Linked DNA regions of Homo sapiens. The protein of the gene in region 1 purifies or fractionates together with the protein of each later gene. This does not show direct contact. Each region holds a gene or a part of one and is shown in the gene's direction. Other genes may lie near its edges. The genes, in order: TAF13, SMARCC2, PFKL and TAF7L.

Region 1 (8,072 bases):
AGAAAAAAAAACTGTGCCTCTATTGAATATGTATAGACTTTTTTCCTTGTCACTATTCCCTAAACAGTATAGTATAACAACTATTTACATAGCATTTACATTGTATTAGGTATTGTAAGTAACCTAGAGATGATTTAAAATATACATAGGATGTATTTAGCTTATATGCAAATACTATGCCATTTTATATCTGGGATTTGAGCATCTGCAGATTTTGGTATCCACGGGAGGTCCTGGAACCAAGCTCCCAAGGATACTAAGGGACAACTGTATACATGTGCGCACACACACACACACACACTCACACACTTGTAATCACTACTAAGATCAAGATACAGAACACTTCCAGCATTTGACAGCATTTCTTACCATTTACATATACCCCTTTGATAATCTGATAAAAGTTATAATTATTCCCAGAAAAATGCCCATGTACAGATAATGTATAAAATTTTTCCGTATGATTTCAGGGTAGTCTCAAGGACTTCTTTTTTTATTTTTTGAGGCAGAGTCTCCCTCTTTCGCCCAGGTTGGAATGCATTGGCATGATCTCAGCTCTCCGCAACCTCTGCCTCCTGGGTTCAAGCTATTCTCCTGCCTCAGCCTCCCAAATAGCTGGGATTACAGGTGCGTGCCACCACGCCCCCCTAATTTTTGTATTTTTAGTAGAGACGGGGTTTCACCATGTTGGTCAGGCTGGTCTCAAACTCCCGACCTCAGGTGATCCGCCCACCTTGGCCTCCCAAAGTGCTGGAATTATAGGCGTGAACCACCGCGCTGGCCTTCAAGGACTTCTTAAAGCTTGTCTCTGGACTGGGAGTTTATAGGCGATAGGATAAGAACCTCTGTGGATCTCAGCTGGGTGTGGTGGCTCACACCTGTAATCCTAGCACTTTGGGAGGCCAAGGCAGGAGGATTACTTGAGTCCAGGAGTTCAAGACCAGCCTGGGCAACAAGGTGGGACCCTGTCTCTACGAAAAAATAAAAATAAATAAATAGTTAGAAACCAGTTCAAAAACTGCCTAGGCAACATAGCAAGACCCCTGTCTCTAGAAAAAATTTTAAATGGCTGGGTGTGGTAGCTTAGGCCTGTAATCCCAATAATTTGGGAGGCCAAGGCAGGCAGATCACTTGAGGCCAGGAATTCAAGACTATCTGGGCAACGTGGCAAAACCCTGACTCTACTAAAAAATACAAAAAAATTAGCTGGGTGTGGTAGCGCATGGCTGTAATCCCAGCTACTTGGAGGCTAAAGTTTGAGAATCTCTTGAATCCGGGAGGTGGAGGTTGCAGTGAGTTGAGATCGTGCCATTGCACTCCACCCTGGGTGACACAGTGACACTTCTGTTTCAAAAAAAACCCCACATATTAGCCAGGCATAGTGGCATGTGTCTGTAGTCTCAGCTGCTCACGTGAGCCAGGGAGGTTGAGGCTGCAGCAAGCTGTACTGCAACACCACTCCAGCCTGGGCGACAGAGCCAAGACTGTCTCAAAAAAGGAGAGCAAAAAAAAGAATTCACACGGATCCTGTCTGCCCTAAACTACAACTACCAACAAGTGCGATGCTGTTGTGGGTATGAGTAAAGACGCGAACCAGATCAGCTGGGTTCAAACTCAGGTTCCATCTCTTACTAGCTTTGTGACCTTGGGTAAATCAGTTACTGCAGTGCTTTAATTTTCTCATCTATAGAATGGGGATAATCAATAGTTTCTACCTTAAAGGATCATTGTGAGGATTAAATGAGTTATATATGTAAAGGACTTAAGACAGTACCTGGCATATAATAAGGGCTATATATGTTTTATCTTTTGGCAGTTATTTTTATTTGTCTGTATTAGACTTCTCTCTTATTATTTTTGAGACACAGTCTCTCTTATTATTATTATTATTTTTGAGACACAGCCTCCCTCTGTCACCCAGGCTGGAGTGCAGTGGCGCATTCTCAGCTCACTGCAACCTCTGCCTCCTGGATTCAAGCGATTCTCATGCCTCAGCCTCCCGAGTAGCTGGGATTATAGGCATGTGCCAACACCCCCAGCTGACTTTTGTGTTTTTTTTTTTTTTTTAGTAGAAACAGGTTTTCACCTTGTTGGCCAGGCTGATCTCAAACTTCTGGCCTCAAGTGATCTGCCTCAGCCTCCTGAAGTGCTGGGATTACAGGCGTGAGCCACCATCCAGGCCTACGCCCAGCTAATTTTTGTTTTTTATGTAGAGACAGGGTTTCGCCATGTTGCCCAGGCTTGTCTCAAACTCCTGAGCTCAAGCAGTCTACTTGCCTGGGCCTCCCAAAGTGCTGGGTTTACAGGCGTGGGCCACTGCACCCGACCTAGACTTATCCTTTGCATTTCCTATGGTTTCTTCAGATGAAGCCTGAAAGGGCTTTGCTGCAGTTGTATTGATCTAGGAAATGTCAAAATTCCTTGTAGTAAGCCCTCTGCTTTCTCATTTTGAGTACCCTGTTTCTTCCTATAAGAACAGATTTGGGGCTGGGCGCGGTGGCTCACGCCTGTAATCCCAGCACTTTGGGAGGCTGAGGCACGCAGATCACCAGGTCAGATCATCGAGACCATCCTGGCTAACACAGTGAAACCCCTTCTCTACTAAAAATACAAAAAATTAGCCGGGCGTGGTGGTGGGTGCCTGTAGTCCCAGCTACTCGGGAGGCTGAGGCAGGAGAATGGTGTGAACCCAGGAGGCGATGGAGCTTGCAGTGAGCCAAGATGGTGCCACTGCACTCCAGCTTGGGCGACAGAGCGAGACTCTGTCTCAAGAAAAACAAACAAACAAACAAACAAAAAAAGTATTTGGAGAACTGTCTCTCATGTCTTTTCCCCTATGGTAATATCAGTAAAGAGTCTGCCGTTTTTCCAACGCCCCACTGCCATGCCCACACACAAAAACCACCTCCAAAAAAGGCTAAGCTGTTGCTGTCTGTCCTGTCCTTTGCCAGAGTTTCCTACTTAAAGGTGTTCTGCTGGGGGCAGGGACTGGTAAGTAGATGCTAGAGATTAGGAAAAGACTGTTTACCTTAGGGTTCAGTAGGTGGGAGGAAGGAAGAGTTTTGCTGGAGGCTACGTGGGAACAGTTGGTCATCAGACTGTTCTTAAACCTTTTACACAAGAATCCATACTTGGAGATAACAAATACGATGTAAATATGTTTTCATACCAATATTATCTATAACTTGGTTCATTTCTACTTTATTTTTTTAAAGTATCAAATTGTTAAATCTGTAAAAGTAAACAAAAGTAAGTGATTGTTCTTTTACAGTGCGATGTATGATGTATGGCTTTGGGGATGACCAGAATCCTTATACTGAGTCAGTGGATATTCTTGAAGATCTTGTCATAGAGTTTATCACTGAAATGGTAAGATTCTTTCCTAACTGGTCTTAGTTAATTGAAGAATAGATTTGAAATATTAAACTTTAGGTAAGACTAGAACTTATGGCATCCCTTTGAAATAAGCTATCCATTTGAGTGCTTGTTTGCAGAAGTTATTGGTTACTATTTATCATTGAGGATGGAGGTTATACATGTATATTCTATCCCCCCTTCTTCCTTTTGTTTTTTTTTTTTTTTGAGATGGAGTTTCGTTCTTGTTGCCCAGACTGGAGTGCAATGGCACGATCTTGGCTCACTGCAACCTCCGTCTCCCGGATTCAAGGGATTCTCCTGCCTCAGCCTCCGAGGAGCTGGGATTACAGGCATGCATCACCACACCCAGCTAATTTTGTATTTTTAGTAGAGACAGGGTTTCTCCATGTTGGTCAGGCTGGTCTCAAACTCCCAACCTCAGGTGATCCGCCAGCCTCGGCCTCCCAAAGTGCTGGGATTACAAGCGTGAGCCAACGCGCCCAGCCTCTTGCATTTTTTATAAGGACATAATTATAAAATCCTTGAATAAAATAAAAATATTATCCATAATACCATTATCCAACATAGGTTTTTTTTTTTCCCCTCCTTTTCCAGTATTTAAAGATACGCAATTTTTTGTGTGTGTGTGTCTGTGTGTGTGACAGGATCTCACTCTGTTGCCCAGGCTGGAGTGCAGTGGCATGATCATTGCTCACTGCAGCTGAGACCTTCCGGACTCAAGTGGTCCTCCCACCTCAGCCTCCCAAATACCTGGGACTACAGGCACATGCCACCATGCTTTGCTGATTTTTGAATTTTTTGTAGAGACAGGGTCTCACTATGTTGCCCAGGTTGGTCTTGAACTGCTGGGTTCAAGCAATCTACCCCCTCAGCCTCCCAAAGTGCTGGATTACAGGCATGAGCCACTGTGTCTGGCTCAATGCCGTATTATTAAGTATTTAGCTTCTATTTTTTAATCATTAGAAATAATGCTGTGATAGGTCTTTGATTTTGCACAGGTGAGTATATAATGACAGGATGAGATAGAGTTATTTGATTTTTAGAAAACCCACCAATATTTATTGGGTATTAAGATAGAGGAGGACACAAAGCATAAATGAAATGGGTGGGTACACAAAATTATAAAATTATTTTATATAAATGAAGACAAAATCTACATATATCAAAAAACAAAAAAGGAACAATAAAGTTGACAGCTTTCATGTCCTTAAGATTTTTTTTAAAGTGCCTGTGAAGCATAAAGGAGAACATTGCTAATAATCCAGTAGAAAATAGACAAAGGACATGAGTAGAAAGATAATTCACAAATGAATAGCCATAATAATAATAATAAGAGAAAATCTTCTACCTCACTTGCAATTAATAAATGCAAATTAAAACAGTAAAATATTAGATTTAAAAAAGTTAAATGTAATATGTTTCTTTGTAATAGACTCACAAGGCAATGTCAATTGGAAGACAAGGTCGAGTACAAGTTGAAGATATCGTCTTCTTGATTCGAAAGGACCCAAGGAAGTTTGCCAGGGTTAAAGACTTGCTTACTATGAATGAAGAATTGAAACGAGCTAGAAAAGCATTTGATGAAGCAAATTATGGATCTTGACACTTTTTGTAGTTTCCGAAAATTACCATCTGGGGAAACCATATATAATAATTGTATATTTTCTAAAGTAAGATTCTGATATCTAGCCATGTAAATGAAAGATGGAGAAACACAAAGTTTTCAGCCTTTATTTTTATGCCTTTGATTTTAGGGTGATATTGGTGCATGTAATTGCCTGCCTTTATATTACCATACTTGAATTACTTACTGGGTTTTAATGACCACACATAAGTCAAAGTACCTTGCAAACCATGCCGTTGTTCTGACTTTTGACTATTTAAAGGATAAAGTAGTATTTAATGTGTTAGGTATGTTTATGCCCTTGTAAGCTATACTGTAGCTTTTTTTTTTTTTTTTTTTTTTTTTGAGATGGAGTCTCACTATGTTGGCAGGCTGGAGTGCAGTGGCGTGATCTTGGCTCACTGCAGGCTCCACCTCCCGGGTTCAAGTGATTCTCCTTCCTCAGCCTCTCGAGTAGCTGGGAAGTACAGGCGCCTGCCACCACGCCTGGCTAACTTTTTGTATTTTTAATAGTGACGGGGTTTCACCATGGTAGCCAGGATGGTTTTGATCTCTTGACCTCGTGATCCACCTGCCTCGGCCTCCCAAAGTGCTGGGATTACAGGTGTGAGCCACCGCGCCTGGCCTACTATAGCTGTTTAATATGTGAAATCTAAATGGCATTTTTGACTTGACAGCTCAGACTTGTACTTCATGTATTCAGAAGTTTTTAGACAACAATTAGTTTATTGTCTAGTTCATTATTAAAGATAATGAACTAGGCCGGGCGTGGTGGCTCACACCTGTAATCCCAGCACTTTGGGAGGCTGAGGCGGGCAGATCACTTGAGGCCAGGAGTTCCAGACCAGCCTGGCCAACATGGCAAAACCTCACCTCTACTAAAAATTAAAAAATTAGCCAGGCATGGAGGCATGTGCCTGTAATCCCAGCTACTTGGGAGGCTGAGGCAGAAGAATTGCTTGAACCCAGGAGGCAGAGATTGCAGTGAGCCGAGATGGCGCCACTGCACTCCAGCCTGGGCAATAGAGTGTGACTCTCAAAAAAACAAAGATAATGAACTGGTTTGCATTTCTTTTAAAGAGATGATAGAGGAAAATATAGTTTTTTGTAAGAATGTTTATCTCTCTTAAAAGATAATCTTTTAATTTTCTTCAGATAACAAGTTATTATTATTTTTTAAGAAAGCAAGTTTCACGGGCCGGGCGCGGTGGCTCACGCCTGTAATCCCAGCACTTTGGGAGGCCAAGGCGGGCGGATCACGAGGTCAGGAGATCGAAACCATCCTGGCTAACACGGTGAAACCCCGTCTCTACTAAAAATACAAAAAATTAGCCGGGCGCGGTGGCAGGCGCCTGTAGTCCCAGCTACTTGGGAGGCTGAGGCAGGAGAATGGCGTAAACCTGGGAGGCGGAGCTTGCAGTGAGCCGAGATCGCACCACTGCACTCCAGCCTGGGCGACAGAGCGAGACTCCGTCTCAAAAAAAAAAAAAAGAAAGCAAGTTTCACATGAATAATGCTGTGTTGGAAGGCTTTTTGATTTAAAATCTTTTCGGATTTATAACATCCTGTTAAGTTTTAGGAGAACCCGTTTTCCCAGAGCAGATTCAAGCTTCTAAAAATAAATGCTTTCAGTAGCAGGAATGGCATTGTTTAAAAAGCTGATGGCAGGGTAAGCATTTGGGTTAGTGTTTTATTAACATATTTGTAAGTACTTGTTCATTGTGGAAATGTGTCCTTGACTAAAACCATACGTGGCTATGGAAACCATGTTTGTAGTTCTGAATACACAGGTTTTGTGTGTATTTACTCTATGTATTAAATTATTATTGCCCTTAGTTTAAAGTAAGGATTACAATTGGATTTAAGTAGATCACTGAATGTTATTGTTTATGAAACTTAACTTTTTGTATGCTGCTTATAAACATGATCTATAAATCAGTGCTTGGGAAAATTTTACTTTCTTAATCTACTGATACAGGAATAAAATATGAACAATTAAACAGGTTGATCCTTGAATCTGACTGATTTGTGACTTTTTTTCCTCCCAGAATATTATGCCCATTACTGGTAATATGATAATTCTTGCTGCTTAGTCTAGCTGAAAATTTTTTTTATTTCAGTGAGTATCTGGGTGAATCTTTTCATTTAAAAAAGCAGGACTGGGCCGGGCGCGGTGGCTCAAGCCTGTAATCCCAGCACTTTGGGAGGCCGAGGCAGGTGGATCATGAGGTCAGGAGATCGAGACCATCCTGGCTAACACGGTGAAACCCCATCTCTACTAAAAAATACAAAAAAACTTAGCCGGGTGTGGTGGCGGGCGCCTGTAGTCCCAGCTACTCGGGAGGCTGAGGCAGGAGAATGGCGTGAACCCGGGAGGCGGAGCTTGCAGTGAGCCAAGATCACGCCACTGCACTTCAGCCTGGGGGACAGAGCGAGACCCCGTATCAAAAAAAAAAAAAAAAAAAAAAAGCAGGACTGGGCACCATGGCCCATGCCTATAATCCCAGCACTTTGGGAGGCCTAGGCAGGAGGATCTCTTGAGCCCAGGAGTTGGAGACCAGTCTGGGCAACATAGAGAGACCCCATCTCAACTAAAAATCAAGGCCAGGCACAGTGCCTCACACTTGTAATCCCAGCACTTTGGGAGGCCAAGGCAGGTGGATCACTTGAGGTCAGGAGTTCCAGACCAGCCTGGCCAACATGGTGAAACCCTGTCTCTACTAAAAATACAAAAAAATTAGCCGGGCGTGGTGGCATGCCTGTAGTCCCAGCTGCTTGGGAGGCTGAGGCGAGAGGATTGCTTGAGCCCAGGAGTTGGAGACCAGCCTAGGCAAGCCCCATCTCTGTAAAAAAAAAAAAAGAGCCAGGCACAGTGGTTTCCGCTTGTGGTCCTAGCTACTCAGGAGGTGAGGTGGGAGAATCACTTGAGCCTGAGAGGTCAAGGCTTCAGTAAACTGCTCACTCTGTCACCCAGGCTGGAGTGCAGTGGCACAATCACTGCTCACTGCCTCGACCTCCTGTGCTCAAATAATCCTCCCACCTCAGCCTCCCGAGTAGCTGGGACTACAGG
Region 2 (5,704 bases), on another chromosome or scaffold:
GCAGCCCTGGCCTAGCATGTAGACACATGTTCTTTAGGATTTGCCCAAGGGTGATATTAAGCATGTTCTATACATAACAAGTACCTACTCCAGTGCCTCAACTTCTTTTTAACAGGGTATAGAGCCTTTAAATCCATATTACTGATATCGTCTATACTGCAGATATTCCTAGCACAAAAGTTTTGATTAAAGTGTAAATTACTATTACCAGGCTGGTTCCTGAGAGTAGGTTTTAATAGAAAAACAAGAGAAGGAACTAATAGAAGACCAGTTTATATAAATTAAGGGATGGAGAGGGCTCACTGGGAAAGAAGTGTAGGAGCCACGGTGGCTCACGACTGTAAATCATCCCAGCTACTTGGGACACTGAGACAGAAGGATTCCTTGAGGCCAGGAGTTCAAGAATAGCATGAGCAACATAGCAAGACTCCCATCTCTAAAGAAGTGAAAAAAAATTAGCTGGGCCTGGTGGGGCATACCTGTGGTCCCAGCTACTTCGGAAGCTGAAATGGGAAGATTGCTTGAGCCCAGGAGTTTGAGGCTGCAGTGAGCCATGATCACACCACTGCTCTCCAGCCTGGCTGACACGGCAAGACCCCGTATCTAAAAAAATTAATGAACAAGGCTGGGTGTGGTGGCTCACGCCTGTAATCCCAGCACTTTGGGAGGCCGAGGCGGGCGGATCACAAGGTCAGGAGATCGCGACCATGCTGGCTAACATGATGAAACCCCATCTCTACTAAAAAGACCAGGCGCGGTGGCTCATGCCTGTAATCCCAGCAATTCGGGAGGCTGAGGCGGGCGGATCACCCGAGGTCAGGAGTTCGAGCTCAGCCTGACCAACATGGAGAAACCCCGTCTCTACTAAAAATACAAAACTAGCTGGGCGTGGTGGCACGTGCCTGTAATCCCAACTACTAGGGAGGCTGAGGCAGGAGAATCGCTTGAACCCGGGAGGCGGAGGTTGCAGTGAGCCGAGATTACGCCATTGCACTCCAGCCTGGGCAACAAGAGTGAAACTCCGTCTCAAAAAAAACAAAAAAACAAAAACAAAAAAAATTAGCCGGGCGTGGTGGCATGCATCTGTAGTCCCAGCTAGTCTGGAGGCTGAGGCAGGAGAATCACTTGAACCTGAGAGGCAGAGGTTGCAGTGAGCCGAGATCACGCCACTGCACTCCAGCCGGGGTGACAGAGCGAGACTCCGTCTCAAAAAAAAAAAAAATTAGCTGGGCGTGGTGGCAGGCGCCTGTAGTTCCAGCTACTTGGGAGGCTGAGGCAGGAGAATGGCATGAACCTGGGAGACAGAGCTTGCAGTGAGCCGAGATTGCGCCACTGCACTCCAGCCTGGGCGACAGAGCAAGACTCCGTCTCAAGAAAAAAAAAAAGATTTTGCCTCAGGCCAAACCTGCTTGGCTTTGGATAAGACATGGCAGTCTTCTTTGGTTAGGAATACTTCAAGATAACCACATTGATGAGGTGGGTGAGACTGAGAACTGAACAAGTTTTCTTCCCAGCTATTCCACAGCTTCCCCTCTCTGGGGGTCCCTCCGTGTTTTTTCTTCATAGCTTGCTATGGTTCTCTCTTCCTTCTCTTCCTGGAGAAAGCAGTATGTGTGAAAAGAAAGTAGTGATCAGGTGAAATGAATTCAACATGACATGCAGGCAGGGTTGGAGTAGGAACTGAACTCTTGGTATAAAATAGTAAATGATGGCTGGGCATGGTGGCTCACGCCTGTAATTCCAGCACTTTGGGAGGCCCAGGCGGGCAGATCACGAGGTCAGGAGTTCGAGACCAGCCAGGCCAACATGGTGAAACCCCGTCTCTACTAAAAATACAAAAATTAGCTGGGTGTGGAGGCACGCACCTGTAATCCCAGCTACTTGGGAGGCTGAGGCAGGAGAATCACTTGAGCCCGGGAGGTGGAGGTTGCAGTGAGCCAAGATCTCATCATTGTACTCCAGCCTGGGCAACAAGAGTGAAACTCCATCTCAGAAAAAAAAAAATAGTAAATGATGATAATTGCCTGCATCTATTGAGAGCTTAGTATCTCCCAGGCACTATACTAAATGTCCAACCTACATTGAGTAATTTAATCTTTACGTCAACCTTAGAGGTAGATATCATCTTCAGTTGACAGATAGGGTATAGAGGAGTCAAGTCACCTGCATAAAGTCACAGAGCTAGTAAATAAAACCAGGATCTGAATCCTTTAATCTGGCCCATGATCTGAAACTTTACACTGTACCACATGATAGCTGCCATTTTTTTGAGCCCCTACAATGCGCCAGGCACTATACTAGTACTTTATAGACCTCTCAACAGACATTCCATTTTACAAATGAGGAAACTGAGGTTTAAAAATTCGAAGTAAATTGCCAAGGTCCTCATGGTAGAACTGGGATTTGAACTTAGATCTTTTCAACTTCAAAACATATGTTTTTTACCGTGGTATGCTGACTAGCTATATGCATGAATAAGGACTTCCTTTTAACATCTGAGTTTGGAAATGAGTATTTTCTTAACTTCTAATTCCTTGTTTAAAAATTGTATAAAATGGCTAGGTGCAGTGGCTCATGCCTGTAATCCCAGCACTTTGGGAGGCTGAGGCAGGAGGCTCACCTGAGGTCAGGAGTTTGAGACCAGCCTGACCAACATGGAGAAACCCTGTCTCTACTAAAAATACAAAATTAGCCGGCCGTGGTGGCACATGCCTGTAATCAGAGCTACTGAGGAGGCTGAGGCAGGAGAATCTCTTGAACCCAGGAGGCGGAAGTTGCCATGAGCCAAGATCATGCCATTGCATTCCAGCCTGGGCAACAAGAGGGAAACTCCATCTCAAAAAAAAAAATTGTATGAAATATCCCTAAGTATAGCCAAGGAGATAATTCATTTAAAGAAAACCCCATCAAGGAAAAGTAAGACATATTTGAAACCCTTTCATCTAGCACATAGCAGGCACTCAGCATGTAGAGTCAAATAATCTACTTTTTTCCATCTTTATCATGCAGGAGAAGTCATTAGCTCTCTTACCATTTTTTCCTTTAGCCCTTTAACAAACATTTATTTTTCTTCTTCTTGTTTCTCTCTCTCTTTCTTCTAAGCTACCTGGCCTATCGAAACTTTATGATTGACACTTACCGACTGAACCCCCAAGAGTATCTTACCTCTACCGCCTGCCGCCGAAACCTAGCGGGTGATGTCTGTGCCATCATGAGGTGGGTCTTGTGGCTGAGGGGAAGGGGGTACATGAGGATGCCTGCCTATGGATGTGTTTTGGCAACAGTAGAGATGCCAGCAAGGAACACAGAGGAGCAGACAGAAAAAAGCACCTCTAGAGAAAGGTGAAGTACAGGTTTGGGGAATGAATGACTTGAGGGATTAGCAATGGCATTCTCTGAAGTGTAGAATATAGGACAAAGAAGGAGCATGTCTGTAATTGAAAGATACTGGTTCAGGCCAGGTGTGGTGGCTCATGCCTATAATCCAAACATTTTGGGAGACCAAGGTGGGAGGATTGCTGGAGCCCAGAAGTTCGAGACCAGCCTGGACAAAATGGCAAAACCCCATCTCTAGAGAAAATGCAAAAAAATTAGCTAGGCATGGTGGCACGTGCCTGTGGTCTTAGTGACTCAGGAGGCTGAGGTGGGAGGATCCCCTGAGCCCTGGAGGTGGAGGCTGCAGTGAGCGGTGATCACACCACTGCACTTCAGTCTCTCTTAGGGAAAAAAAGAAAGAAACTGGTTCAGTTTTACTAGCTATTCAGGAAGAAATGTTCGGTAGGTAGGTAGATATAGAGATTGGCCCAGGCTGAAGATGTAGACTTGGGTGTCACTGGCATTTAGGTGATAAATGAACAACTGGAGTAGGTGAGATTTCTTAAGGAGTACAATGAACAGAGGAAAAGGCCGGGGTTGGGTGGGGAGGGGGTTTATGCCCCTTCTACCCCCCACTTTTCCTCTTCCTCGTGCACCTTTCTGGCTATCCGTGTGACCCTGTCTCTGCCTCTCTCTGCACAGGGTCCATGCCTTCCTAGAACAGTGGGGTCTTATTAACTACCAGGTGGATGCTGAGAGTCGACCAACCCCAATGGGGCCTCCGCCTACCTCTCACTTCCATGTCTTGGCTGACACACCATCAGGGCTGGTGCCTCTGCAGCCCAAGACACCTCAGGTAGGGTGAGGTGCTATGGGGATGGGGCGGGTTGGGAAGATTGGGCTTCTTTGAACTTTTCTTTTTCTGGTTTTTAGGGTAATGGTTCAGGAGTGTTTTGAGGCTTCTTCCTTTTCCATGGGATGCAAAGGGTCACGGGAATCAGCCCCATGTGTTTAGCATCCTCTCTCAGCCTTTGTACCTAAGGCTGTAATTGCTGAGGGAGAAGAGATTATCCTTTTACTCAAGGAGTAGACAGGCTAATGTAGGGGAGTCAATAGAGAAAAATGGCTTAAAATTAACTTGCATGAAATTTTTAAACTTTGTCATCTTTGCCACATTTTTTCATTTTTGCCTCATAATTATCATCTTCATTTTTTTTTCCATTTCCACTTCATCCATTACAAAAATTAGGAAGAAGGTTATGTGGCTTGCCCAAGGTCACAGAGTACCAAATCTAGGATTAGAACCTAATTGTCCAGCTCCTAAGAGAACCTATAAAGATAATGTGAATATGTATGGATATCATGCCAACGACATGTCTTATTAATCATGAAGGGAACATGGAACAGTGGCATGAGTGCCCCCAGAGCTTGTGGGCCGCCCAGCATATGGTCTTGAGGCCTCCAGGGCCTTGGCCTGGTCATTTCCTGCCCAGCCTCCATGACGCCAAGCTCTGTCCCCCAGGGCCGCCAGGTTGATGCTGATACCAAGGCTGGGCGAAAGGGCAAAGAGCTGGATGACCTGGTGCCAGAGACGGCTAAGGGCAAGCCAGAGCTGGTAGGTGGGGTGCAGACCCTGCTGGGCTGCTCATTTTCCCCTTTATTGGGGGGCCCCTGCCCGGGAAGAAGAGACATGAGAGCAGAGGAACTACAGCAGTAAGGGAGGAAGTCCCACCCAGGGGTGTCCCTGGCTTTGGGAAAGAAGCTCCTTCTGTCTGTTTTTTCTCTCTGTCAGCCCCTGGCTCCCGGTGGTCACTTGTACTCACCTGTTTCTTTCCCTCCACAAATAGCAGACCTCTGCTTCCCAACAAATGCTCAACTTTCCTGACAAAGGCAAAGAGAAACCAACAGACATGCAAAACTTTGGGCTGCGCACAGACATGTACACAAAAAAGAATGTTCCCTCCAAGGTAGGAGGTGCGGGCCGACTCTAGGGGTAGAGAATGTTCGCTCCTCAGAGGTCACAGGCTCCTTTCTTCTCACCTGCCTGTGTTTCCCCTGCAGAGCAAGGCTGCAGCCAGTGCCACTCGTGAGTGGACAGAACAGGAAACCCTGCTTCTCCTGGAGGTAATTGGGGCAAAGAAAAGAGAGTTTTTCTCTGAAAACAGAAGTGGGCTCCGTGTAGAGGCTCACGCCTGTAATCCCAGCACTTTGGGAGGCCAAGGCAGGAGGATCACTTGAGTCCAGGAGTTCGAGATGAACCTGGGCAACATAGTGAGACTCCGTCTCTACGAAAAATTTTAAAAATTAGCCAGGTGTGGTGGCACACACCTGTGGTCCCAGCTACTCAGGAGGCTAAGTGGGAGGATTGCTTGAGCCTAGGAGGTCAAGG
Region 3 (8,072 bases), on another chromosome or scaffold:
CCCTCCTGGAAGTGGCCTGGATGCAAGGTCGGCCCACCTGGTTCCTTCCTGCTCTGTGTGAGCAGCTCAGGCCCTCACTGAGAGTCTGTTTCCCCCTGTAACATGCGGGTTCCCGCCTTGCCCACCACCCAGGGTGCACTGGGGCAGGGAGGGTGGCACAGCTCTCCTGCTGGACCTGCAGCCCATCTTCCGGGTGTCTGACCTCACCTGCACTGGCGCCACCTCCTCCAGGTAGCCCTCCACTCCCACCACACCCGGGCCCTGTCTGAGCTGCTCCAACCCTGTCCCTGTAGGAGGCATTGTGGCCCGTGGTGGGCAAACATGGGGCTTGTGGCTCAGAGCGAGTCCCACAAATGTTGGCTGGGTCATTGAAGTGGACGGCCGAAAAGCTCTTTCAGTTCCCAGAGAGCTGGGCCGCGGCTGGTGTGTGGTGCTGAGGCAGCAGCCTGAGGCTGGCAGAGGGGATGGTGTGTCCTATGTGCACCAGTGTGGACCCACAGTGGCTTCAGGGTGCAGGGTGTCCGGGGAGCCCTGGCTGGTGCCAGCGATGCGGGGCCCCTGGTTATAAGGATGAGCAGATGGAAGCTCACAGGGGCCCCAGGTACCTGGCCCAGGCTAGCCCGGGCAGGCCCCTCTGCCCTGTGCCCCGTGGAGCTGCAGCCCTGTGCGTCTTCCCGCCTGGAAGGCTTCACCAGACACAAGGGCCCAGCCCCAGCTGTGTGTGTGCTGGGCCCAGCCCCGAGGGCCCCCTTCCTCCCCTGCTGCCCTTCCCAGGCTTTCGGGCAGAGCCCTCTTGTTCACCGCCTCCAGGAGGGCGGGGCGTCCTAGTGGGCCCAGCCTCATCTCTGCCCTCGCGCTCCAGGCCTGCTTTCCTCCTGCTGGGTGGGGATTGTGCCCTGGCCCATGTGGGTTGGGAATGGTGGCCCCAGGGAGGGCTCCTGGCACCCGGGGGCTGTGTCCGGGGCAGGTTTCCCTGCCTGGCAGCTGAGCCCTGTCGTGTCTTTGACCCAGACTCGGAGCCGTGGGTCCCGACTGAACATCATCATCATCGCTGAGGGTGCCATTGACCGCAACGGGAAGCCCATCTCGTCCAGCTACGTGAAGGACGTGCGTGTGGGCCTGGGGGTGGCCACTGGGCACCTGCTCCTCTAGGCCGTGTGGGCTGGGGCTCAGGGCTGGTCCTTCCCACTGTCCTGCAGCTGGTGGTTCAGAGGCTGGGCTTCGACACCCGTGTAACTGTGCTGGGCCACGTGCAGCGGGGAGGGACGCCCTCTGCCTTCGACCGGATCCTGGTAAGTGGCCATCACCCTGCCCTGCGTACGTGCGTGGGTAAGCGTGGTGTGTGGGTGTGGGTGTGGGCAGTGTGCACGCGAGCATGGCACGTGCACTGTGTCCATGTGGCTGTGGGTGAGTGTCCGTGTCTGTGTGTGGGGGTGTATGTGTGGGGGACGCGTGGTCCTTGTGGGTGTGTCTGTGTGTGTCTGGTCCGTGTGGGTGTGTGTGGCAGTGTGTGTGGGTGTGTGTCAGTGTGGGTGTGTGTGGGTGTTCCCTCAAGCTGTTGCTCCTCCTGGGGGAGACTGAGGCCTGGCTTCTCCGTTCCCCTGCAGGTATAGGGAACTCAGACCTGGGGACCATGGGAGGCCCCCCACCAGCCTGTGCCTCCTGGCTGTTCTGACCCCCACCCTCTGCCAGCCCAACGTGGCAGCAGTCAGGGCCAGGGGCAGGCCCTGGGAGAGGGGCTGGGTGGGCAGAGGGTGGTGCCCATGGCGCCTGTGGCGTCACAGTCTGGGAGGCTGGTGCTGGGAGGGAGCATTCGGGGTCTGGCCTGGCCTCGCCGTCCTTGGTCCTGATCACCGCTGGGTCTCACTTTGTCCTCTGCAAAATGGGAATGAAGTTGGAGCCAAATGGAGTGGGTCTGGGGCCAGGAAGGCACCATGGTAGGCAAAATGCCTGTGTATGAGGGTGGTCACCCTCTCAGGCAGGGCCAGAGACTGTCAGACAGGTGGGACTTGTGCTGAGGGAGACCAGGTGACTGCGCCCAGCCCTGTGACTGCACCTGGCCCTGTGACTCGTGTGCTGAGCCGAGCATTCCCAGGGAACCCACACAGCTGGACGAGGGCCACTCTATAGAGGGGAGGCTTCCTCAGAGAGGGGCCCCGCCGACCTAGCCAGGCAGCTGCTGTCCCCTCTGTGAGGCCTCAGGCTCACTCTGAAGAGCCTCTTGAGGGGCCGGGGACATCAGGGCAAGCCAGCCGCTGCTGAGCCTGGGGTGATGGAAATGCCGCTGCTGTGACCGGGCCAGCCATGCACTCCCAGCCTGCAGGCTGCTGGGTTTTCCAGCCAGTGTCTTGGATGCCTGATGCCGGGTGTGAAACAAAGGACAGTTGATCGCCCCTAGCCGCGGCTGTCACCCAGAGCGTCAGCATTCTTGTGCTCCCTGAGCCCGTATTCCCACTGGGTGCTGCGAAGGGGCCAGGGGACCCTAGCACGTGCAGTGGTAACCTGCACTTTTCCAAGGAGCCTCATCCTGCATGGGGGGTGTCTCCGAGGCTGCTCCCTAAACAGCGTCCTGGAGAGACTGCCCAGAATAAGGTGCCGCCTGTGCCTCACTTGCAAGATGAAAAAACCTGTGTGGAACACGGAGGGCTGTCTGTGGCCCCGGGGGTCCAGCTGCTGGGCTTCTACAGGGCTGGCCACTGGTGGTCATGGGACGGCCACGGCAACCGCAGGCCTGGCTTTCTTGTCCACTGTGGCCGGTTCCCGGGGTGGGGCTGGGGCCTGCCTTTGCAGTGTGTCCCTGGGGGGCAGCTCCTGGATGTGTCCTCTGCCCAGCCCTTTGGCCGGTGCGGACACACACCAGGGAAGTCACGACATGAGGGCCTCCACGGGAGGATCCATCGCAGCGGATGGGGCCCTGGGGACCTGGCTCCCGCCCTTGCCTTGCGCGCCTAGCGATGGCAGCGAGCGACGGTGGGTGGGTCGCATTGCATGGCACCCTGCAGCCAGCAGTGCAGGCTGGGCCTTCCAGCAGGGCAGCGAGGACTCTGTGAAATGGTGTCTGGTGTGCCGTCGTGAATGCTGGTCAGACACGTTTCCATCTCTGATGCCACCTGTTCTGGAAGCTTCCGTCAGCGTGGGGGGCTCTGGAAGCTGGGGTTTGCACATCTACAGAGGATGGGCATGTGGCTTGGGGTAGAGGGACCAAGTGGGTGTGCCAGCCTGAACCCTTCCCCACAGAGCAGCAAGATGGGCATGGAGGCGGTGATGGCGCTGCTGGAAGCCACGCCTGACACGCCGGCCTGCGTGGTCACCCTCTCGGGGAACCAGTCAGTGCGGCTGCCCCTCATGGAGTGCGTGCAGATGGTAAGCCCTGGGCCCCCCCCATCAGAACCGCCTGGCCCCTCTCCCCAGTCCCCACTCACAGGCCCCACTGCTCTCTGGGGGCCCCAGCACTGTGAGCACCGGAGGGCAGGGCCTCGTGGCTGGCCCAGGGCATCCCAGGTCTCCAGGGAGGGGAGGGATGTGAGCACATCCCTGGGTGGGACGTGGGACCTGGGACGTTCCCCAGGAGGTGTGTCGGAGCTGCAGGGAGCCTGGTGAGCATGGGAAGTCACAGGGGTCCACGGCCACTGAGCTTCTGTAGGCAGTGGTGGGAGTTGGGGTTACGATGGGACGGAGGAGGAGGGGCCAGTGATCAGAGCAGAGCCCTGGGAGGAGCTCAGGCAGGTGATGGGGAACACTGGGGTGGCTGGAGCAGGGACCCCAGGAGAGGAGGTACGGGGAAGGCAGAGGCGAGGGGGCCGGGTGTGGGGGCTGGTCCAGCCCTGGCTCGGTGGGTTTGGAGGCCTGCAACTGGGGCAGAGTGCCCTGCCTGGAGCTGGAGCTGCTGAGAGGTGAGGAGGGCAGCTGGGGGCAGGGTAGGGCCTCCTGGTCTCAGCCAGCCCCAGAAGAGCTGGCCTTGGTGGTGACCGCTGTTCCTAGGGAGAGGCTGCCAGGCCTGGGCCAGGGTCAGGAGATGCCGGCCAGATCTGCCCTCGTCAGGCCCACCAGACAGGGCAGTAGCCATGGGTGTGCGGGCCAGGCTCTCCATAGTCTGTGTTCTGTTTCTCTTCCTTAAGACCAAGGAAGTGCAGAAAGCCATGGATGACAAGAGGTTTGACGAGGCCACCCAGCTCCGTGGTGGGTAAGCCCCCTCAGCAGACCCCTGCACTCTTACATGGCTGGGTCCCGGTGCCAGGCAGCATGTGCTGCAGTGGCGCTATGCACGCCTGGCCTGGGTCATCCTTCTAGGCACCGCGTCTGAAGATCGAGGGAGGAAGGGGCCTGCGGGTGGTACAGGAGGCGGGCTGGGAGGTGTGGTACCACAGGAGACCCTGGGCGGTGGCACGGGCAGGGCCCAGTGCACAGGGATCTGGGCATGGCGAGGGGATGAGAAGCTGTGGATACAAGCCCAGGACATGGGGTGGCCCCGCGGGGGCTGGGAAGGCTGGCAGATGTTGGGTGTGGGTACCACCCCCCTGCAGGCGTCCTGGCGGCCGGGTCAGGCTGGATTGGACGTCTGGGTTCCCATGCGTGCCTCCACCCGCTACCAAGGTGGCCAACCCTCCCTTGAGCTGGATGCCGGCCACGTGCTTTGCTGCACGGGCTGGCGTGGCCTCGTGTTGTGTTGGGGGTCTCGCACCTTCTGTGGAAGGTGCCCTGCCTGGCATGCGCGGTGTCTGCTGCCTCATGGCTGAGCTTCCATCGGGCCGTGTGCCTGTGACCAGCCTCCTGGGCTCTGTCACGGCTGCGCTGTGGCTGTACGCCGTGGCGCTGCAGGGCTGTGCATGGTGTGACCCGAATCCCTTCCAGGAGCTTCGAGAACAACTGGAACATTTACAAGCTCCTCGCCCACCAGAAGCCCCCCAAGGAGAAGGTGAGGCAGGGAGCGGCGCCCACAGAGGGAGGAACGGGCTCAGTTATTCTGCAGCCTCTTCACGCTGGCCCCGTGGCTGGGCCTGCCTGCCCCCACCTTCCCTCCTGCTGGGGTCCGAGCTGTGAGCTGGGAGGGTGGGCCTGACCTCTGCCTGGGCTCAGGCACCACTGTGGCTGGCAGGTCCCGGGTGCTGGGACCCTGGCTGCAGGGCTGGCTGTTGCTTCTCAGTGGTGGATGGAAATGAAGTCAGGCCACAGGCTTAACTCAGGAGAGGAGAAGCCATTGTGTAGAAAATGTCCCCCGGGGCCAGGCTCACACCTGTAATCCCAGCACTTTGGAAGGCTGAGGTGGCCAGTTCACCTGAGGTCAGGAGTTCGAGACCAGCCTGGCCAACATGGTGAAACTCCGTCTCTACTAAAAATACAAAAATTAGCTGGGCGTGGTGGTGGCACATGCCTGTAATCACAGCTACTCAGGAGGCTGAGGCAGGAGAATAGCTTGAACTTGGGAGGTGGAGGGTGCAGTGAGCCGAGATCGTGCCATTGCACTCCAGCCCGGGCGGCAAGAGTGAAACTCTGAAAATAAAATGTTCCCAAACAGCTGAAAACCTCAGGAAATGGGATCTCTCCAAAATAAGGATGAAATGGCTTGTTTCTAAAGTCCTGGGGGACGAGGGTCCTGTAGAGAGAGTCACGGCCAGTGAGGTCCTGGCTCCCAAGCCCCTTGAGCCACAGCCGGAGCTGCAGGCCGGGGCAGACAGCGTGGCCCAGCCTGAGTCTGGTCCTCCCTTCCATGGACATCTTTGGGTGTCCCTGCTGCTCCAGCCTCCTGCTTATCCCCAGAGCTAGTCAGCGGGCTCTACCCTCCGTGGTGGGGCAACCTGGTCTCCACGAACCCAGAACCTGGCAGGGGCGTGACTGGCTTTGTGGGCAGCAGGGCTGGCTCGTACCAGGACCCAGTGGGGCCATGTGGCTATGGAGCCCTTGGGTGTGGCTGCTGCCAAGTGGGATGTGCTGCACGTGACAGGTGCACGCCAGGTTCAGAGCCTCAGCACGGTGGGTGGAGGGGAGGTGGTGGCGGCCGTCACTGGATTCACATGGATGTGGTGGGGTTTTGGGTCCATCAGGTTAAATTAACTGTAGTCCTGATGGGACTGTCTCCATGTCTTTTCCCTTCCCTTAACGTGGCTACTAGAAAACAGGATAGCCAGGGCCCCTTCCTTACTCGTGGCTGTGCACCCCCCACCCTCCCGCCCGCTGCCAGCCCCTTGTGTGGGCACTGACCTGTGTTCCCGCCCGCAAGCCTGGCTTCACAACAGTGCTCGCCCCTTCTGCCTCCTCTGTTGCCTGCGTGCCAGGGGGCCAGGCTTGCACCGTGTCTCTTTTGGTCTTCACCAGAATCTTCTGGAATTAGAACAGATACCGTATTCCCAGGGCAGTTGGGCGGTGTGCTGGGCAGCGTCCAGGCTGCTGGCAGGGCCTGGCCCCTTTTTCCAGAACCTGCCGGCCTGCTGACCTCCTGTGCAGGTTGGGGGTCCCCTCCCCGGCTGTGCCTCACGCTCATCTCCCCTTCTCTCTGAAGTCTAACTTCTCCCTGGCCATCCTGAATGTGGGGGCCCCGGCGGCTGGCATGAATGCGGCCGTGCGCTCGGCGGTGCGGACCGGCATCTCCCATGGACACACAGTATACGTGGTGCACGATGGCTTCGAAGGCCTAGCCAAGGGTCAGGTGGGTCCGGCCGGGGCAAACAAGTGAGGACTTGGGCCTTCTGTGTGCACACTTGGGGCATTTCCTGTGGAAGGCCGGCTGCTGGAGGTGGAGGCTGAGACCTGGGTCCGCGTGTCGGTGCCCACCCGGGCCTGGGTACTCAGCTCTGCCTGCAGCGTGATGCCCAACACTGGCTGGCCCCCGGGCACAGGCCCACCCCTGGGGGGAATTGGCCAGAGGCTCAGGCTGGCCCCTGAAGCTGCATCTCCTCCTGGCAGGTGCAAGAAGTAGGCTGGCACGACGTGGCCGGCTGGTTGGGGCGTGGTGGCTCCATGCTGGGGACCAAGAGGTGAGCTGCCTGCTGCGGGTACCTGGGGGCAGGAGGGCCAGGGCGCAGTATCCAGGCCCTGCAGGTGGGGGCGGCAAGGGGAACCCAGCCCGGGGCCCTGGGCTCGGCCCCTCTTCCTGCTGGTGGTCTGCCCAGAGCAGGCTTCACGCCTCCTGCCTGGGGCTTCCTGGCCTGAGCTCCGCTGTGTAGGGCAGGCTGCTCTGGCGGCCCCATGCCCATGGTGGGCTCTCCGTGGCAAGGAAGCTGGCGAGCGTCTGTCCCTGCCTGGCCAGGCCAGGCAGCCTGCACTGTCAGCACTCTGGCTGAGGCTATGGGCCTGTCTGATGGCTTTTGTCCCAGGGCCTGAGACCCTTCTGTGGGCATGGGGTGGGCACAGTCCCCCTGTGTGACTACAGGGGAAGTTGCTGAGTCCTGAGCCACTGAGTGGCTGCAAGGGCCAGAGGAAGCATCCGCTCCTGCCGCTGAGTGTTGGGCGAGAAAGCCTCGGGCAGGAAGGGGTTCCCACGGGGAGCCCAGCGGGGTGGGGGGTTCACTCGGTTGCCTGGCCGGTGCCTGGTGATGCTGAGTGGTGCCCAGGCGGCTCACGCTGGGCCTGTGTGTCCCTCTCCGTGTGGAGCCACAGCGCCACATCCCGGGCATTGCAGCGACTGCTGACTGGCTCGGGGAACGGCCAAGGCAATGCCTTTCTGTGATCAGATGCAATCTGGACACGCGTCCCCGGGTGCTGCGTGTTCATGCGGATGTGTCTTTGACTGCAGGACCCTGCCCAAGGGCCAGCTGGAGTCCATTGTGGAGAACATCCGCATCTATGGTATTCACGCCCTGCTGGTGGTCGGTGGGTTTGAGGTGAGAGCTGCCCACGGACGAAAAAGCCCCAGGGCACAGGAGACCCAAGGTGTCCTCCCGCCGAGGGGGCCCATCCTGAAAACCCGTGTGCTGGCTGGGCCGATGCAGGGGCCGAGAGGGTCGGGGTTTTAAGTGCTGTGTGTGGGCTCGGGAGGGCACCCGTGTGCCAGCTGGGCTGATGCAGGGGCCGAGAGGGTTGGGGTTTTAAGTGCTGTGTGTGGGCTCGGGAGGGTTCTTTACTTTCTCCGGAAAGCT
Region 4 (8,072 bases), on another chromosome or scaffold:
TTCCTCCTGTACAATACCACCTATCATGCAGGTTGATTTCCTGGCAAAACAGCTGTGACAATGATGGACCCATTCACTTACCACCAATACTAACAGCCTGTTCCCTGGACAGCCAAGATACGGCTCCTCTGAAATCCTTTCTGTCACCTCAAAAGGGGCAGTGAGAAGGGCCAGCATTATTCACCACCATGCAAGACTTTTAAAGCTCATCTCAACAAGTATTTGGCTCTCTTCCCCCACACTGATACCTGTATTCAAGCAATTACTTAGTCTAGGCAGCTATATTAAGGATGGGGTTCAGAAACCTATTTCCCTAATTAGGGTTACTTAATATACCAAGCAAACTGCAACTAGGTAAGCCTTTCTTTAGCAACTACAACAGAAGGGTAGCAGTGAGAGGCAGGATTGTAGAGCTAGGAGAAAGCATTAACTGTAGCTACTAAGAGACAATTATGAGTTTAGAGTCAGCTTCATCCTAACTTGACTTATACAGTGCACAGTATCTCATGGTACATGGTCTTGTTAGTAACATTTGGGAGGTGTAAAGTTTTATTTAAGGGAGGGCTTTCTTTGATATATCTATTCTGTTAGCTGCCAAGTAGATGTTTAGTTCTTCTGATTTTTCAATTTACCTCCTTTTTAGGAACATGCTTGTACTGTCAGGAACCTAGCACGTTCTCAAAGTGTCAAGATGAAGGATAAACTAAAAATTGACTTATTGCGTAAGTAGTTAATATCCATTCACTATACATTGAACAATAATTTATTAAGGGATTGCTATGTGCCATACACTGTACTTGGTACTAAGGATGTGAAAAATGATAGAATATGGTCTCTGACTTGATGGACTCATGCTTTAGAGAGGCTTAAGTCCTCTTCTTTTAAGAGGAAAGGAAGTAGGAATATTGCACCTTGAGTTGAGTGATTATCATAGTGTGTTTAAGGAAACTTGGGGGTCAACTGTGGGGTTTTTATACTGCTGGTAGCCTCCCATATATAAACTTTATGATTTCTGAACATCCAAGGGAATGACAAATGGATATGCCATTCTTTGTTTATAAAGGTGACATGTATTTCTTTCTTTCTTTCTTTCTTTCTTTCTTTTTTTTTTTTTTTGAGATGGAGTCTCGCTCTGTCGCCCAGGCTGGAGTGCAGTGGCGCAATCTTGGTTCACTGCAACCTCTACCTCCTGGGTTCAAGTGATTCTTCTGCCTCAGCCTCCCAAGTAGCTGGGATTACAGGCACATGCCACCATGCCCGGCTAAGTTTTGTATTTTTAGTAGAGACGTGGTTTCACCATGTTGGTCAGGCTAGTCTCAAACTCCTGACCTTGTGATCCGCCTGCCTTGGCCTCCCAAAGTGCTGGGATTACAGGCGTGAGCCACCGTGCCTGGCCAGTGACATATATTTTTCTTTTAAATAATATTTGTTATATTGGCAAATTGTACATCCAATAAAGTGGTTAATATCCAAATATATAAGGAACTCAAACAACTCAATAGCAAGAAAACAAATAACCTGATTTTAAAATGGGCAAAGGATCTGAACAGATATTTCTCAAAAGAAGACATACAAGTAGCCAAAAGGTTCATGAAAAAATGCTCAGCATCACTAATCATTAGGGGAATGCAAATTAAAACAACAGCGAGATATCACCTCATACCTGTTAGAATGGCTTTTATTAAAAAAAAAAAAAGAACAATAACAACTGTTAATGAGGATGAGGAGAAAAGGGAAACTTTGTACCCTATTGGTGGTAATGTAAATTAATACAGCCTTTTTTTTTTTTTTTTTTTTTTGAGATGGAGTCTTGCTGTGTCACCCAGGCTGGAGTGCAGTGGCGCGATCTTGGCTCACTGGAACCTCCACCTCCTGGGTTCAAGCAATTCTCCTGCCTCAGCCTTCCGAGTAGCTGGGACTACAGGCATGCGCCACCACACCTGGCTAATTTTTTTGTATTTTTGGTAGAGATGGGGTTTCACCATGTTGACCAGGCTGGTCTTGAACTCCTGACCTCGAGTGATCCACCCACCTCAGCCTCCCAAAGTGCTGGGATTACAGGCGTGAGCTACTGTGCCTGGCCTACAGCCATTATTTTTTTTAAATGGTATGGAGGTTCCTCAGAAAACTAAAAATAGAACAACCATGTGATCCAGCAACCCCACTTCTGTGAATATATTCACAGAAGGAATTGATATCAACATGTTGAAGGCATATCTCTCTGCACTCCCATATTCATTGTAGCATTATTCACAATAGCCAAGATATGGAATCAACCTAAGTGTAAATGTGATACGTATACACAATGCTATACTACTCAGCCTTTTAAAAAGAACAAAATTCTGTCATTTGGGACACCATGGATGAATCTAGAGGCCATTTGCACCAAGAGCATGTGTAAATAAATAAGTAAATAAGTAAATAAATAAATAAATGTTTCCACACAAGTTTATCTGCCTAAAAAACACACAACCAAAAATAAATAAATTTTGCTAGTTTTTTTTTTTAATACAGAGAAGCATATAAAGGAGAAAACAAAAAGTGGCTCATAATCTCACCAGTTAGTTAACACTTACTGACATTTTTTAAAAAAGATAATATAAGTTCATAGTTAGAAAATTCAAATAAAACAGGCTGGGTGTGATGGCTCATGCCTGTAATCCCAGCTCTTTGGGAGGCTGAGGCGGGCGGATCACTTGAGGTCAGGAGTTCCAGACCAGCCTGGCCAACATGGCGAAACCCCGTCTCTACTAAAAATGCAAAAATTAGCCGGGCATGGTGGTGCACACCTGTAATCCTAGCTATTTGGGAGGCTGAGGCATGATAATTGCTTGAACCCAGGGGGCGGAGATTGCAGTGAGCAGAGATTATGCCACTGCACTCCAGCCTGGGTGACAGAGTGAGACTCCTTCTCAAAGAAAAATAAAAAAATCAAATGAAAAAGAAAAGTTCGAAAGGAGAAATAAAACTCTTCTTCCTTATGGTGCCCCAACCTCAATACCACAGATAACTGATACTGTTTCTTGTTACTTCCTTATTGACAAAACTCTTATGCATAATACTAGAATTGAAGCAATCTCTCTATTTTTAGAGTTAATTCACACAAAATGATAAACATTGTTTTGTATCTTTCTTTTTTCACATAATACTAGAAGATTATACCTGAATCCTCTTGTGTCAAAAGACATTTATGTTTGGGACATCTGAGCAGCAATATTCAGAGTTTAGTATATGGCTGTTGTATAGAATTTTATCTTTATGAAGCTAATTAGAGATTTAACTTGAGATTTATTAGCACCATTCTAGGGTCAGTCAACCCTTCCCTCACCCAGCCCTTTGAAAACACACATGTACAATGACACGATTGAATGCTTCTAAAAAAAAAAAAAAAGGAATTGGTTTTAATGAATGGAATTTGCTTTTCAGGATGAGAATGAAACATTTATTACTTCACCTATATTTAGTTCACATCCATTAACAAGAAACTTAGCTACTTTTGCACAAGTGACGTAAACTAGGAAAAAAGAGCTCCATATACTTTCCATTTCTTTTCTTTAGGAAGCTATTAATTGTGTACACAATTCTAGCATTATGAGAGATAGTAGGTTTCTTGGAAAGACTAATCTGTCCCACATAAGTCTTCATTATTCAAACCTTAGGAAGTTTAAGAGTTCACTGGGAAGATATCAACTTTAATCTTTACTTCTCTTCAGCTGATGGGCGCCATGCAGTTGTTGAAGTAGAAGATGTCCCACTAGCTGCTAAGCTGGTTGACTTGCCTTGTGTTATTGAAAGCCTGAGAACGCTTGATAAAAAAACCTTTTATAAAACAGCAGACATTTCTCAGGTATGGACTAGTTTTCTTTACTAGCCTCACATCCTTCAAGGAATTCTTTTCTCTTCCTATTTTTCTTTCTTTCAGTACTCCTTTCCACTTGGTGAATGGCTGCTTGGCATTTCTAATTTCCAGATTGACTGCACAGGAATGAAATGTCATGTTCTCGTTTGGTGTTTGATCCTTAGCTTTCAGTATTGTATTTTGACCAAATAGCCTATAGAGAGTCCCATTTGCCACTTATAGTGACTTTTCATTAATTGAAACATATGAGCTGCTGGGATCTTCTGAACTTTGTATTAAAACAGTATGTTGTTAACTCTGGAGGTTTAAATTGGTTCTTATTCATCATCTCTGCTGTTGATTTCTTATTTCCTCTCTAAATCAAAATGCTGAGATAGGCCAGACACAATGGCTCATGCCTATAATCCCTACACTTTGGGAGGCTGAGGTGGGAGGATCACCTGAGCCCAGGAGTTTGAGACCAACCTGGGCAACATAGTGAGACCTCATCTCTACAAAAACAAGATTAGCCAGGTGTGGTGGCACACACCTGTAGTCCCAGCTATTCTAGAGATTGAGGTGGGAGGATCACTTGAGCCCAGGAGGTCGAGGGTGCAGTGAGCCATGATCACGTACCACTGCACTCCAGCCTGTATGACAGAGCAAGACTTTGTCTAAAAACAAAACAAAAAACCTAAGCTAAGTTCCAAGATCTGTTTCCAATATATTCCCTCTGTAGTGGTAAACACTCTCGTGGAAAAAAAAAAACAAAACAAAGCACCTTCAGAGTTCATATGTAGTGCTGCTGGTGGCTGGTGGTGGGGAGGAGAGGGAGAGAGAGAGACTGCAAAAATGAGAGAATATAAATGTACATTACAAAATACTTGGTTTTCTGGAAATGGCAAGTATCAGTCTCTTCTGTGCATTTCTAGTGGTAAGAATGATTATGATTGCTAACCCAAAATTCGTGGTCATAGTCAACTTCTTTGTCTTTGTTAAATGTAGATGCTTGTGTGCACTGCTGATGGTGATATCCACCTTTCTCCAGAAGAACCAGCTGCCTCTACTGATCCTAATATAGTCAGGAAAAAAGAAAGGGGGAGAGAAGAAAAATGTGTCTGGAAGCATGGCAGTAAGTCACCAGCCCCTTGCTCATTCCTGCTGACTAAAATTTATTTGCTGAATCCTAATTCCTTGTGAAACAGGGACGTCTTACCACACTTAGGTGTTTGGTTCATTAGGTTCTCAGATACTCTTTAAGAGGAGTCACGTCAGCTGGGCGCGGTGGCTCACGCTTGTAATCCCAGCACTTTGGGAGGCCGAGGCGGGTGGATCACCTGAGGTCAGGAGTTCGAGACCAGCTTGGCCAACATGGTGAAACTCTGTCTTTACTAAAAATACAAAAATTAGTTGGGTGTGGTGGCGGGCACCTGTAATCCCAGCTACTCGGGAGGCTGAGGCAGGAGAATCGCTTGAACCTAGGAGGAGGTGGTTGCAGTAAGCTGAGCTCGCACCACTGCACTCCAGCCTGGGCAACAGAGTGGGACTCGATCTCAAAAAAAAAAAAAAAAAAGGAGTGATGTCATGACCCTTTGGTTTATAGCATGATCTTTGTCTTTATCAAATTCAGCTATGTGACTACCATCAGTCATATAACGTTTCACTGTGTTGTATTTATTTTAGTTACGCCACCACTTAAGAATGTCAGAAAGAAAAGGTTCCGGAAAACACAAAAAAAGGTTAGTTACATGCTATTTGTGTGTCTGCCGGGCCGATTAGAAGAGGATCATGGGCCAGAAGAAAAGAGAAAAAGTCAGTTGGGAATTAATTTTTAATTCATTTATATGTTCAATAAACATTTATTGAATGTGAACTAAATGCCAGGCACTGTATGCTAGCAGTAGGGAATATAGCAGTGAATAAAAAGACCTGATCCTTGAGGTTATAGGCTAGTCATTTGGGGTCTGGAAGAATCATACATTTGAAACTTCTGTTAATGCTTTCAGTTTTCTATTGCAAGATCTAGTTTTAAAGTGAACCCATCCAGAACCTGAAAATTGGGAATTGTGGTTATATTCCTAATGTTATTTCAGGCTTGTAGAATCTTGGGCAAACTACAGGAGTATTGTGGCTTGGCTTCTTCTTTTGTTTAAAATTAAACATGTTATTTTGAAATAATTGTAAATTCATATACAGTTGTAAGAAATAAAAGAGAGATATCGTGTACCCTTTCGCCATTTTCCCCATTTTGCAAAACTATAGTACAATACCACAAACAGGTAATTGACATGATTAGAATTCTGCAATCTTATTCCAATTTCTCCAGTTTTACTTGTACTCGTGTATTTTTGTGCATGTGTTTAGTTCTATGCAGTTTTATCCCATGTGTAAGTTCATGTATCTGTCTACACAGTCAAAATACAAAACAGTTTCATCACAAGGATCCCTCATTTTGCTTTTATATAACCATGCCCACTTCCCTTCCACCTCACACCCCAGTCTCTGACACTTGGTAATCACTAATCTGATCTCTATCTCTGTAATTTTGTCATTTCAAAAATTTAATATTAATGGAATTATATAGTATATAACATCAGAGACTAGCTTATTTTTTCATTCAGCATAATTCACTTAAGATCCATATAAGTTTTTGTAGCATCAATAGTTTATTTTTTATTGCTGAGTAGTATTCCATGGTATGAATGTACCACATTACATAACTGTTCTCCCTTTGAAGGACATCTGGGTTGTTTACAGGTTTTGACTATTATAAATAAAGCTGTGAACAGGTTTTTGTGTGAATATAAGTATTCATTTCTTTGGAATAAATGTCCAGGAGTATAATTGCTGGGTCATATGGTAGTCACATGTTTAGTTTTGTAAGAAATGACCTGTTTTCCAGAGTGACTGTACCATTTTATATTCCTGCCAATAATGTATGAATGATCCAGTTTCTCCACCTCCTCACCAGCATTAGGTGTTGTCACTATTTTTCATTTTAGCCATTCTGATAGGTGCATAGTGATCCCATTGTAGTATTAATTTACATTTCCCTGATGGTTAACGGGGTTGAGCATCTCATGTGCCATCTATTCCACTTCAGCGAAATGTCTGCTCATGCCTTTTGCCTATTTTCTAAATTGATTTTTTATTATTGAATTTTGAGAGTTCTTTTTATATTTTAAATACTACCAGTGTTTTATCAGATATGTAGTTTGCAAATATATTCTCCCAGTCTGTAGCTTGTCTTTCCATCCTCTTCGTAGGGTCTTTCAGAGAGCAAAAGTTTTTAGTTTTGATGAAGTACAATATATTGATTTTTTTGAAAACGATCTTGCTTTTTATAGTAAATCTAAGAACTCTTTGCCTAGCCCAGATCCTGAAGATTTTCTCCTGCTTTTTTTTTTTTTTTACATCTTTTTAAGCCTGATGCCCATTTTCGACTTAATTTTTGTAAAAGCTATGAGGTTTAGTTCAAGGTTTTTTTTTTGTTGTTGTTGTTGTTTTGTTTTTGTTTGTTTGTTTGTTTTTGCTTTTCTTGCCAAAGGATGTCTAATTGCTCTCGCACTATTTGTTGAAAAGGCTATTCTTCCTCTGTTGTATTGCTTTTGCACCTTTGTGAAATATCAGTTGGGCTTGGTTTTATGGGTCTGTTTCTGGGTTCTCCATTCTCCTCCACTGATCCATCTGTCAATCCCTCCACCAATATCACAGTGTCGCTATATAATTGGTCCTGAAATTAGAAGGCTGATTGCTCTGACTTTACTTTTCTTTGTCAATATTGTTTAGCCATTCTAGAGTCCATATCTTTATTTATTTATTTATTTATTTATTTTTTGAGATGGAGTCTCGCTCTGTTGCCCAGGCTGGAGTGCAATGGCACGATCTCTGCTCACTGCAGTCTCTGCCTCCCGGGTTCAAGCGACTCTCATGCCTCAGCCTCCCAAGTAGCCAGGATTACAGGCATGGGCCACCATGCCCGGCTAATTTTTGTATTTTTAGTAGAGACGGGTTTCACCATGTTGGCCAGGCTGGTCTCGAACTCCTGACCTCACGTGATCCGCCCGCCTTGGCCTCCCAAAGTGCTGAGATTACAGGCATGAGCCACCACGCCTGGCCAAAAGCCTGTATCTTTTAATATAAATTTTAGAATAAGCTTGTCTATAGCTATAGAAAACCTTGCTAGAATTTTGGCAGGAATTACATTAAACTTGTAGATCAATTTGGGGAGAAC

What was found.
Region 2: the proteins of TAF13 (region 1) and SMARCC2 purify together in Homo sapiens (affinity purification with mass spectrometry, with the first as the bait; one large-scale study listed by BioGRID). This does not show direct contact.
Region 3: the proteins of TAF13 (region 1) and PFKL purify together in Homo sapiens (affinity purification with mass spectrometry, with the first as the bait; one large-scale study listed by BioGRID). This does not show direct contact.
Region 4: the proteins of TAF13 (region 1) and TAF7L purify together in Homo sapiens (affinity purification with mass spectrometry; 3 studies listed by BioGRID and IntAct, with this or other methods). This does not show direct contact.

What each region holds. Positions count from the first base shown.
Region 1 is NC_000001.11:109,061,432-109,069,503, reverse strand, and holds the end of TAF13 (transcription initiation factor TFIID subunit 13), read left to right. Parts: intron 1-3,271; coding exon 3,272-3,369; intron 3,370-4,810; coding exon 4,811-4,981; 3' UTR 4,982-5,364; downstream 5,365-8,072. UniProt on the Homo sapiens protein: The TFIID basal transcription factor complex plays a major role in the initiation of RNA polymerase II (Pol II)-dependent transcription.
Region 2 is NC_000012.12:56,172,163-56,177,866, reverse strand, and holds part of SMARCC2 (SWI/SNF complex subunit SMARCC2), read left to right. Parts: intron 1-3,102; coding exon 3,103-3,216; intron 3,217-4,017; coding exon 4,018-4,171; intron 4,172-4,837; coding exon 4,838-4,930; intron 4,931-5,162; coding exon 5,163-5,282; intron 5,283-5,376; coding exon 5,377-5,439; intron 5,440-5,704. UniProt on the Homo sapiens protein: Involved in transcriptional activation and repression of select genes by chromatin remodeling (alteration of DNA-nucleosome topology).
Region 3 is NC_000021.9:44,315,233-44,323,304, forward strand, and holds part of PFKL (ATP-dependent 6-phosphofructokinase, liver type), read left to right. Parts: intron 1-1,011; coding exon 1,012-1,107; intron 1,108-1,199; coding exon 1,200-1,292; intron 1,293-3,237; coding exon 3,238-3,363; intron 3,364-4,118; coding exon 4,119-4,183; intron 4,184-4,851; coding exon 4,852-4,915; intron 4,916-6,496; coding exon 6,497-6,643; intron 6,644-6,900; coding exon 6,901-6,971; intron 6,972-7,729; coding exon 7,730-7,817; intron 7,818-8,072. UniProt on the Homo sapiens protein: Catalyzes the phosphorylation of D-fructose 6-phosphate to fructose 1,6-bisphosphate by ATP, the first committing step of glycolysis.
Region 4 is NC_000023.11:101,279,225-101,287,296, reverse strand, and holds part of TAF7L (transcription initiation factor TFIID subunit 7-like), read left to right. Parts: intron 1-643; coding exon 644-722; intron 723-3,713; coding exon 3,714-3,847; intron 3,848-4,843; coding exon 4,844-4,970; intron 4,971-5,521; coding exon 5,522-5,577; intron 5,578-8,072. UniProt on the Homo sapiens protein: Probably functions as a spermatogenesis-specific component of the DNA-binding general transcription factor complex TFIID, a multimeric protein complex that plays a central role in mediating promoter responses to various activators and repressors.